Regions from separate parts of the Homo sapiens genome. Here region 2 is linked to region 1. The links come from fine-mapping of genetic effects on gene expression. A gene starts in region 1. The other region holds a variant in brackets. All regions are shown on one strand. Distances are from middle to middle.

The links. PIP is the estimated chance that this variant, and not a neighbour inherited with it, causes the effect.
Region 2: its variant is the best candidate, but not a certain one, in a credible set for the expression of WDR36 in whole blood (INTERVAL, PIP 0.85).

What each region holds. Positions count from the first base shown.
Region 1 is chr5:111,089,337-111,094,717 of GRCh38, reverse strand. It overlaps WDR36 (WD repeat domain 36), which reads right to left and starts at 2,370. Exons shown (of 23, transcript NM_139281.3): 1 at 2,100-2,370. The coding sequence starts at 2,261. RefSeq lists an enhancer at 2,081-2,520.
Region 2 is chr5:111,132,970-111,138,350 of GRCh38, reverse strand. No RefSeq gene overlaps it. Among named protein-coding and RNA genes, the nearest start is that of WDR36, 43 kb to the right of the region's middle. The variant C/T (reference allele first, on the strand shown) is at 3,055.

The DNA of each region.
Region 1 (5,381 bases):
GGCAAATGTTTTCTATAATGGGCCAAATATTAAATATTTTAGGCTTTGCAGGCAATGCATGTGGTCTCTGTTGCCAACTACTCACTTCTGCCACCGTAGCATGAAAACAGCCATACGTAATAGATAAATAATGTGCATGGGTATATTAAACTTTTATCTATAGATACTGAAATTTGATTTTCACATAGTTTTCATGTCATGAAATATCCTTCTCCCTACCCCCAGCCTGCCCCCACAAACATTTAAACATGTCAAAATCATTCGTAACTCCTGGGTCATACAAAAACAAACAGTGGGCTAGACTGGCTTACAGACTGTAATTTGCTGACCCCAATCATGGCTACTGATCCAGCTGTATGACCCTGGAAAAATAAGCTCCCTGTGCCTCAAATTCTTCATCTGTAAAACAGGTATTTATTTACTTTATGGGATTGTTATGAGGATTCAATGAGTAAATTTGTGTAAAACAGAATGGGGCCAGTCATATAGTAACTGCTCAATACATGATAGCTACTACCATCACTACCACCACCTATTCACAACTTGTCTAGTTTCCCCTGTAGAAGAAACTAATCTGTAGGACTGTAGGAAGTCTGACTGGGGACAGCATATATAGCCATAGTCATGGGATAGAGCACTTGTAGACCCAATTAGTGACTTAGGTTCATTAGCTCCTTTTTTTTTTCTTTTTACTCCCAAGTATTTTCAGTTTTAGAGGTCACAGCCCAATGCATTGGTTAATCTGAGCAGTGTACAGTCTGGGTAAAGAACATTTACATGCCATGATGTTACGAATGTATCATCAGTGTTAGAACTAGAGGAGAACTTAAAAGCCATCTTTATTATGACTAAATGTCAACACACAGTAAGTAAATTGTTAACTTTATAAAATGTACAAATATGTTACTCTCCTCACCACAGGGTTTCTTTGGAAGTAGAATATAGGGAAAAACACCTGTGTCTGTGTGTAATGCAGTGTCAGGAAAGACACTGTACCAAAGACAAGATTTCAAGAGTTATTTCAGTAATAAACTCAGAAAAATTACATTTCAAGGAAGAAAACATTAACCAGCAAAAGCAAAAGTTAGCAAGCAAGGAACAAGTGCAGAGAATGGTAACACTAAATACTTTCACATGATTAATATGGTTCTAACCCACCCTGTCTCCATTACCAGCTCAGACTCTGAGAAACCCAATTGCTCTTCACCTCAGCTCTGCCCTCACTTTCCTTTTCCACTAACTCAACTAGTTCCTACCTCCCAGCTCTTTTTGCTAATAAGCCATTTGATATTCACAATCCTCCAAGAGAGACAACTCTACCTGTTTTCCAGAAAAGAAAGTACTTAATTAACACTGACTATTATCATCCTCCTCATCAAGGTTTCTGTTCTCACAGAGGTTACATTCTTTCGGAGAAGACAAAAGAAACAAGTAAACAAGAGACACTATTACAATGATCGATGAACTGTTATAGGAGAAAAAATCATCACTAACAAGTGATTTATCTGAAATTTACTTTAATAGATTATATAAAGGTGCTACGGTATAATGACACCTATGTTGCAAAGAAACGGCTGCAAGGCTTAGAGTGACAGTGCCAGACACTTTGCGTTAGTTGAAAATAACTGATTGCTATTAGATATTTTCCCTAACGGTAATTAATCTCACCATCTCCGGTTCTCCCAATGTATTCTACCTAGAGTGAATTTCTAACTCAGCTCGTGTCACCAATAACGTAATAGCGTGCATGTTTTTCTCTCTCATTAAGAATGCAAGAGGTAGAGGTTTGTCTTAATTATGTTTCCACCTTCAAGGGAAGGTCAATAAATATTCACTGAACAAATATTACTGCCATACAACTGAGATGTTCTCTAGCAGTTTCCCCTTGGCCAGGCTGCCTCTGAAACACGCCCCAGGAGGACTGCAAGTGCCAAATCAGCACGTGGACGTGACCGGATGGCGAAATATTAATAGGACAGGGAGGGGTTAAAGAAGGGAAGCCCGTGGTAAATGGGAAGGGAGAACCGGACTGCTCCAGGACAGAGTTAGAGGCCAAGGAGGGTGGTTTTCCTGGGAAGCTAACAAAAGAAGTCACTCACGTCATAGGTGTGGAAACTCTTGCCCACGCAGGTTGTTACATAGAACCGGCGCTTGAGCGCGCTGAACCGCACCACGTGTGGAATGTCGTTGCTGAAAAGTCCCAAGGCCCGGAACCCCGCAAAAAGCGCGCTGGCCGTGCGCCTTTCTGAGGCCCGTTCCATTGCCGCCGCGATCCCAGCTCCTCTCAGCTCTGGTCCTGAAGGAAAACACGTACCCAGTCCCTTCAGCGTGTCTAGTGGAACAGTCCTCTGCCAGAGCTGCAGACACAACACCGCTTCCGGCGCCCGCTGCGAATCGCGTTTCCGGAGACTGCCCTCAGTGCAACACATAAAGTTCTCCCTCCAGAGCTCACATGGGAGGCGTGACTTGGGTTCCGAGGGCCAAGGTCTCCAGCACGTTGCCTAGCATTGTTCTCCAGCTCTTTTGCGGTGGAAGGAAGCTCGTTAGGTTCCGACAGAACCGCAAGGGCGGGAAACAAAGAGGGAAGCGCGACGCCCAGGAGAATGGAGGGGAGGTCGACGCCTTGGAGATGGAAACGATTTAAACATGTGATTATTTAAAAATGTACAAAAACATGAGACTGGAAAAATTTAAACACTGGATATCTGATGATATTAAGGAATTATGTTTCATTTTTACATATGATAGTAGCATTATGATTACGTTTTTAAAGATCCTCATCTTTTGGATACATATTGACATATTTACAGATGAAAACTATAATGGGACATTTCAAAACTGACAGAGGGATTCACTCACAGACCCTCTGGGGAGTAGAACTAATTACTTGTGGGGAGGGAACTGCTCACTTGGGCAACTTGGATAAGTGTAGATTCCTCCCAGAAAAGGAAGATAAATATTAAATGTTATTGGGATTCCTGGATTAAGTCAGTATTCCTTGAGGTCGGCTGTCAAAAGCAGACAGTAGAGGTTCTAAAGAGGAGCTTATCATAATGCAAACGGGAGTCCGGGCAGTTCATTAGAGCTGAGTGCCTTAGGATGCTGAAGGAGACTGATTCCAGTGAAGTGGGTGTCAAGACGCCTCACTCCTCAGGAGCCAGCTGCCTTACCAAGATGTAGGTTTGGGGAACAATCTCTGAGCATGTGAACATTAACTAAAACAGTGGTGAGCTTAGAGCCCAGGACCAAAGTTCAACATATGGAATAACCTCTTCTCTTACTGTTTTATTTCCATTTCATTTCGTTTATGAAAACGTTTTGGCAGCCTATTAAGGTTTGGGTCGAGTGACTAACGTAACTATACTAGTACTTGAGAGGGATAAAAAGGGTATATTTACTAATGTAAATGTACTTGAAAGAGATAAAGAGGGTCTGTCTCTACACAGATCAGTGTACTCTCTCGGGTTCCTTCCAGTTCTAAAATGTAATTATTATGAAACAAAAGTCACTTGTTAGCTAATTTGAATACCTGACTCATACATTCTTGAACAAAAAAAATCTTGATTTATTTTATAGTTCTTGGCACAAAGCCTCAAACACTTTGGATGTTAAGATCATTAAGGGGCAGATGCTAACAGAATGAGAGCTTGTTATTTAGTCCTTGACATGTTGTACTTACTTGTATTTTCATTTGTACCCCGGATTTCTCAATAGCAGTGCACATTTTCAGCCATGTTTTTGGTATGACTTAAAAGTGAACAAGTTGCTAATTATTTGTAAATGTTCTTTAAATTAAAAAAGAGGGGAGAGGGGAGGAGCCAAGATGGCCGAATAGGAACAGCTCCGGTCTACAGCTCCCAGCGTGAGCGACGCAGAAGACGGGTGATTTCTGCATTTCCATCTGAGGTACCGGGTTCATCTCAGTAGGGAGTGCCAGACAGTAGGCGCAGGTTAGTGGGTGCGCGCACCGTGCGCGAGCCGAAGCAGGGCGAGGCATTGCCTCACTTGGGAAGCACAAGGGGTCAGGGAGTTCCCTTTCCTAATCAAAGAAAGGGGTGATGGACGGCATCTGGAAAATTGGGTCACTCCCACCCCAATACTGCGCTTTTCCGACGGGCTTAAAAAACGGCACACCACGAGATTATATCCCGCACCTGGCTCGGAGGGTCCTACGCCCACGGAGTCTTGCTGATTGCTAGCACAGCAGTCTGAGATCAAACTGCAAGGCGGCAGCAAGGCTGGGGGAGGGGCGCCCACCATTGCCCAGGCTTGCTTAGGTAAACAAAGCAGCTGGAAGCTGGAACTGGGTGGAGTCCACCACAGCTCAAGGAGGCCTGCCTGCCTCTGTAGGCTCCACCTATGGCAGCAGGGCACAGACAAACAAAAAGACAGCAGTAACCTCTGCAGACTTAAATGTCCCTGTCTGACAGTTTTGAAGAGAGCAGTGGTTCTCCTAGTACGCAGCTGGAGATCTGAGAACGGGCAGACTGCCTCCTCAAGTGGGTCCCTGACCCCTGACCCCTGAGCAGCCTAACTGGGAGGCACCCCCAGCAGGGCACACTGACACCTCACACTGCAGGGTACTCCAACAGACCTGCAGCTGAGGGTCCTGTCTGTTAGAAGGAAAACTAACAAACAGAAAGGACATCCACACCAAAAACCCATCTGTACATCACCATCATCAAAGACCAAAAGTAGATAAAACCACAAAGATGGGGAAAAAACAGAACAGAAAAACTGGAAACTCTAAAAAGCAGAGTGCCTCTCTTCCTCCAAAGGAACGCAGCTTCTCACCAGCAACTGAACAAAGCTGGACGGAGAATGACTTTGATGAGCTGAGAGAAGAAGGCTTCAGACGATCAAATTACTATGAGCTACGGGAGGACATTCAAACCAAAGGCAAAGAAGTTGAAAACTTTGAAAAAAATTTAGAAGAATGTATAACTAGAATAACCAATACAGAGAAGTGCTTAAAGGAGCTGATGGAGCTGAAAACCAAGGCTTGAGAACTACGTGAAGAATGCAGAAGCCTCAGGAGCCGATGCCATCAACAGGAAGAAAGGGTATCAGCAATGGAAGATGAAATGAATGAAATGAAGTGAGAAGGGAAGTTTAGAGAAAAAAGAATAAAAAGAAACGAGCAAAGCCTCCAAGAAATATGGGACTATCTGAAAAGACCAAATCTACGTCTGATTGGTGTACCTGAAAGTGATGGGGAGAATGGAACCAAGTTGGAAAACACTGTGCAGGATATTATCCAGGAGAACTTCCCCAATCTAGCAAGGCAGGCCAACGTTCAGATTCAGGAAATACAGAGAATGCCACAAAGATACTCCTCGAGAAGAGAAACTCCAAGACACATAATTGTCAGATTCACCAAA
Region 2 (5,381 bases), 44 kb before region 1:
TGTAAAATGACACACATAAGGAAAAAAAGTCTTGTTGTAAAAATGAAACAGAGGAAGTAGGGGAAAAAAAGCCTGTGTCTTTCTCAGGACCATTGAGTAATTGCAACATTGTGAAAAACTACTTTTAGATTTCTTGATGTACGAGAAAAATTAATTCCTACTTGTGAAAATCAAGGTTACTAAGTTGTTACTTGGTCTTGAAAATATTCTTTTTTTTTTTTTTCTGAGATGGAGTCTCACTCTTTTGCCCAGGCTGGAGTGCAGTGGCTCTACCTCAGTTCACTGCAACCTCCGCCTCCCGATTCTTCTGCTTTAGCCTCCCTAGTAACTGGGACTATGGGTGCACGTCACCACGCCCAGCTAATTTTTTGTATTTTTAGTAGAGATGGGGTTTCACCACATTGCACTGGCTGAGAAAATATTCTTAACTAATAGAGAATTGTTTCTCCTTTTAGGAAAACACAGAGCAAGATGTTTTTCCCTCTGTGAAGGACAGTATTTTATTATAGCTGCTGCTGTTTTTGCTACTAGAAGTTTAAGTGTGAAAACTTCCCAGTGTGTTGCGAAGCTGGGCAGCCAAGGGGAGGATTGTCCTACTTTTGACTCCCAACACTTTGTGAACACTATTCTATGCTTGGGGAATTCCCCATTTACAGTCTCTGCTTCCTGAACTCAGAACCCAAAACCTTCGTCTCTCAGCATTGGGTATAGGCCTGAGCCCTAGACTGTTCTAATGCACTAACATTACAATATGTTATGCACTACATATGCATTACAATATGGATGCACTAACATTACAATAGGAGTTGTAAGTGCCATGGAGAAGCAGATGCTGTGTGGACTCTGTTCAGTGAGGCATCAGGGACAGAGGTTCCAGTATCTAGGGCCAGTATCAGCCATGTGAACCTTGGGATGTTCTAGACGTAGTTCTCAGCCACGAAGTCTTCAAGGGACTTGGAAAAACCCTTAATGTACTTAAATAGTAGTTTCTGCTGAAAATAACTAAAACTGGTTCTGAGTAATACATTTCATTATGTTAATTAAAAAATTTTTGTTTATGACCTAATTGTTTTATTCTAAACTTTGCCATCTAGTCCTAATTGAACTCAATAGGTGACTGATCCAACTAAATCTGAGGTTGAATGGAGTTTTAAAACCTGAGACCAGCCCTGACCTCACTGGCTCTCTCAGAGGATGAAGAGCAGTACTGATTCATATTCCATGTCTTGGAACATCAGATTTAAGGCATTTTCAGAGATAAGCATTGGGTATTAGTATATGCTAGCACCTCTTGGTAAGGCTATGTATTTCTCTAACCAATCAATTGGTGCAATGATTCTCAACATTTTTTGTCTAAGGAGCCCTTCACTTTCTAAAAAATTATTGAGGATCTCAGTGTGACATTAATTATATCTGTTGATATTTCCTGTACTTGAAATACTGTGAGTAAACACAGTTTTATGAAAATAGTTTTTAATCATATTTTGCTGACCATCTGGAAATATTTGAAGGACCCCTAGGGAACACTGGACAGACAACTCTTAGAAAACCACTAAATTAGGTATTTATGGAACACTTGTGTGCACAAAATTGAGATGGGCTCTATAGCAAATTTGGACATTTAGCTGATGGCAGACAATGGGAATGAGACTTCCACACTGGCACAAAAGGAGGAAACCAACCCATCAAGGGCATTAGAGATGCAGGCAAACAGTGACAGACACTTTCCTGCATGATCTAAGTTTACCCTAACTGTCTCTGGGCAGTGCTATTTATTGAGGAGTTTTGCTGCAACAAAGGCTATGAAAAAAAAAGGCCTTGTGTTTCATAAAGGAATAATATTTTAAGGATTAGTATTTTTTTAATAGATAAAACTGGTTTCAAGTGACACAAAGTATGGTGTATTTGCTGCATGATTGTCATTTCCCAGCAGGATGAGAATGGTAATTTCCATCTTTGAGTTCTGGTAAAGGGTAAAGAGATAAGCTAATGTGAGATTATGTTTTTCTTCAACACTTAGTTCATGTGGAATCAAGTGGATTATTTCTATTTGTCGCTGAGAGTGAAACTCTCCACCCTGATGTTCTTCGTGCTTTCTGGGAAATCTCAGGCAAGTACCACACCATTGAGATGAGGATCTCTTCTGCCAAGAGCCACCCTTTCCACCACTCCCTGGAGAAATCTCTGACTCAGTCAAGCTAGGTGACTCAGAACTCCCTCGGTTCCTCTGCCTTCCAATTCATGCCAGCTGGGCACAGAGAGAAAGAGACAGGGCTCAGTGCTGACCTGGAGACCATCTGCGCCTCATAAAGACCCAATGCCAGGGACTTGCATCGAAATGAATGTGGTTAGGTCAAGTGGTGGCCTGGAATTTTGGGAAAGGTCCAGTGACTTGGGTGGCAAACACAATTGCAGCTTCCAAAGGCCACCTTCCAGAGGAAATAAGATCTGGTCAGCCACACAAGATATATCTACGAAGTAGCATGAATGGATGGATGGATGAATGGTTAGAGATGTGTAAATACATTCTATTTGAAAAGCTAGACAAAAAAAAAGATTGAAATACAATTAAAAAAAACTAAACTAAATATAGAGTATGAAAATATATAGACATCAACACCTAGAATCAATAGTAGTTGATGTTTTATCTTATTTTGTTTAATTTAAAATTACACAAAACATTGCAGATAAAGTCTCCTTTGTACCCAGTTCCAGGGCCACTGACCTCTACACATTCCCAGAGGTAGCAGCTGGCATGACTTTGGCCATCCCTGACTTTCTATTGCCTTTCTCATGGCCTCATCTCTGAATGCTGTCCTGTCTCTCTCTGTAATACCATGCCCCTCCCACCCCCTTTGTTCAAGATCAATGGCAGTTGTCCTCTTTGTGCAGCCTGCCCTGGCTCCGAGAAGGCAGATGTGTGCTGCCTTTCCTCCTGCAAGGCTCATCTCCTGGACTGGGGGTCAGGCACCCTGTCTCATGTGTGTTGGGATCTCCATCTTGCCATACCCCATACACGATTATTTAGGAGGGAATGGGACAGGTTGAGAGAAG[C/T]ACACAGTTCCACAGGCACCTTTTTCCTCACGTGTTGTAGCTTACATTTTTGAAGTACCTTCACTTCACCTCCTTGTCACCACAGCAACAGAGATGAACATCTCATCTCTGCCCCCTGCCTCCACCTTTCCACGCAGTGTGCCAAGAGCTAAAACTGCACCCAGGCCCCTGGGGGGTGGCCCTCAGCTCCAGGAGCCACGTCTGACAAACTACAAGGCTAATTCCTAGTCTCTGCTTCCCTATGCCTGGCCATCTATTATCAGCCAGAGAATGGAGAGGTGGAGTCTTCCAAGGGAAAAAAAAAACCAGTTTTTTTTCCTCCTTAATTGTTTTACTTCTTCATATGCACTGCTTTTCTAAGTTACCAAGCCCTTTGTTAAAACAAGAATGGTAGTGAAGCAGCATGCAGGCATTTTTTTTTTCATATGGAGGCTATTTGGGAATTCCTGTACACACACACAAACACGTGCACACACGTGTGCGTGCACACACACACACACACCCACGTATGCCACATTTTGAAATAAAGGGAGAAACTCCTGGCAGTCACTCTTTGCAGAGTGTGAAGGCCTAGAAACATCTTCTTCTTTATCTTGATTCTAAAAGAGAGCAAGTCAAAAGGCTAAGCAAAAGAATATAAAAGAATAATGAGCTAAAATACAAGCTTCATAGGACCGGGATTTTTATATGTTTTGTTTTCTAAAGTATCTCAAGAGCATAGAACAGCATCTGAGACAGGGTCAGAGCTAAGTATTTGTTGAAGATAGAATGAATAAATCAATGATTGAAGGAAGGAAAGAGGAGTGATCACAGCGCTGTGAGCTGGGTGGGGAGGCTGTCGGGTATGTGACTCCTTTGTTTGGTATATGATGCTTCTTGTAAACTAAATCCACATGGTTAAGTGAGTCCAGGCTTCGATAACTCACTCTCACCCACCATTCAGTCACCCAATGGGCTTGCATCATATTTACTCTAGAGAATAGAGTGTGGCCAGGAGTGAGGAAACAGGGCCAGAGTTATGAGGCAGACATCATACTTGGAAAGTTCAAATGAGAAAAAATAAATTAATAGTAAAGACTGGAATTTAGCCAGAGATAGTGGGGGAAAAAAAGGGCAGCCAAACAAAACAAAACAAAACAGAACAAAACCCCCGGCTTTGAAATATCCATTCTTGGCTGTGGTAGCAATAAACAATATTGCTAAAAATTGTTTGCAAGGATTTATGGAATTTTTGTGTTTTCAGAGGACATTAAACTATTGTTATCTACATGTCTGCAGTGTCAATAAATCACTAACAACACAGAGATAAAACTAAGTATTGAATATTTTACGTACCTTTTCAGAGACATTTAGTAGATTCAGCTGGAAATGGAAATTAGCATGGTTGGAATTGGGAAATTCAGCATATAGTACACAGATACTGAAAGAAAGATCCCTAAAGAATATTTTATATATCAAAATGATTAAATTTCATCTTGAGCCCTCATATTACTAGATTTAGGGTAGGGAACAAAATTACCAATTAAAAAGTATCTCAGTCTCTTTCACATTAGCCTAGTCTCTTTTGGATAAATATTTTGTGAGATTTTATGTTCAAATTCCCTACCATGTCTGTTTCTTTCCTCACAAAGGAAGGTTCACTATGTGTGAGTGCCTTCTGTGTTGCCAGACCCTCTTCTCACCTCCCCCGACCAGGACCACAGTCCCACTTAGCCTGTGCCCTGAGTCTCTGCCTATCTTCCAGCTGGGCCCTGGGCCAGGATGGTGTGTCCACACTCTGCCACTGGGGCTCTATGGCAGGCCTGTTGGCATTCTACTCCCAGCTGCCTCCCTCATTCCCCTCAGGGAGCAGGTGGAAACCTCCAGATCCCTCCCAGTGTCACCCACAGTCATGGAAACTCTGTGAGCTGTCACAGTCATTTCTTGCCACCTAAGTTAAGTCACACCCCTTGACTATGGCCACCATGTGTCAGGATAGAGGGCTTGTGAGCCAGTCTCCTCCAGGGGAGTCAGGACCTAGCCCCACAACTCTGGAGTTCCACTTAATGTACCCAGTGATTTCTCCAACTAACCCTCCATCCCCACTTCCCCTTTTACTTCTAGATCTGGGGCCAGGGCCTACAAAATCTTTAACCCTTTTGCTCACTTTCCTTCCTTCAGGTTTCTTCCTAGAACCAAGTGGGAACATAGGTGAGAACCTTATGCCTCATAGCCTTCTTTTTTCCCTTCTCCAGTTCTAAGTTCAGTTATATTAAGTCACCAAAACGGAGATTTGTTAAAATACATATTGCTGGCCCCTACCCACAGAGTTTTTATTTCAGTAGTTA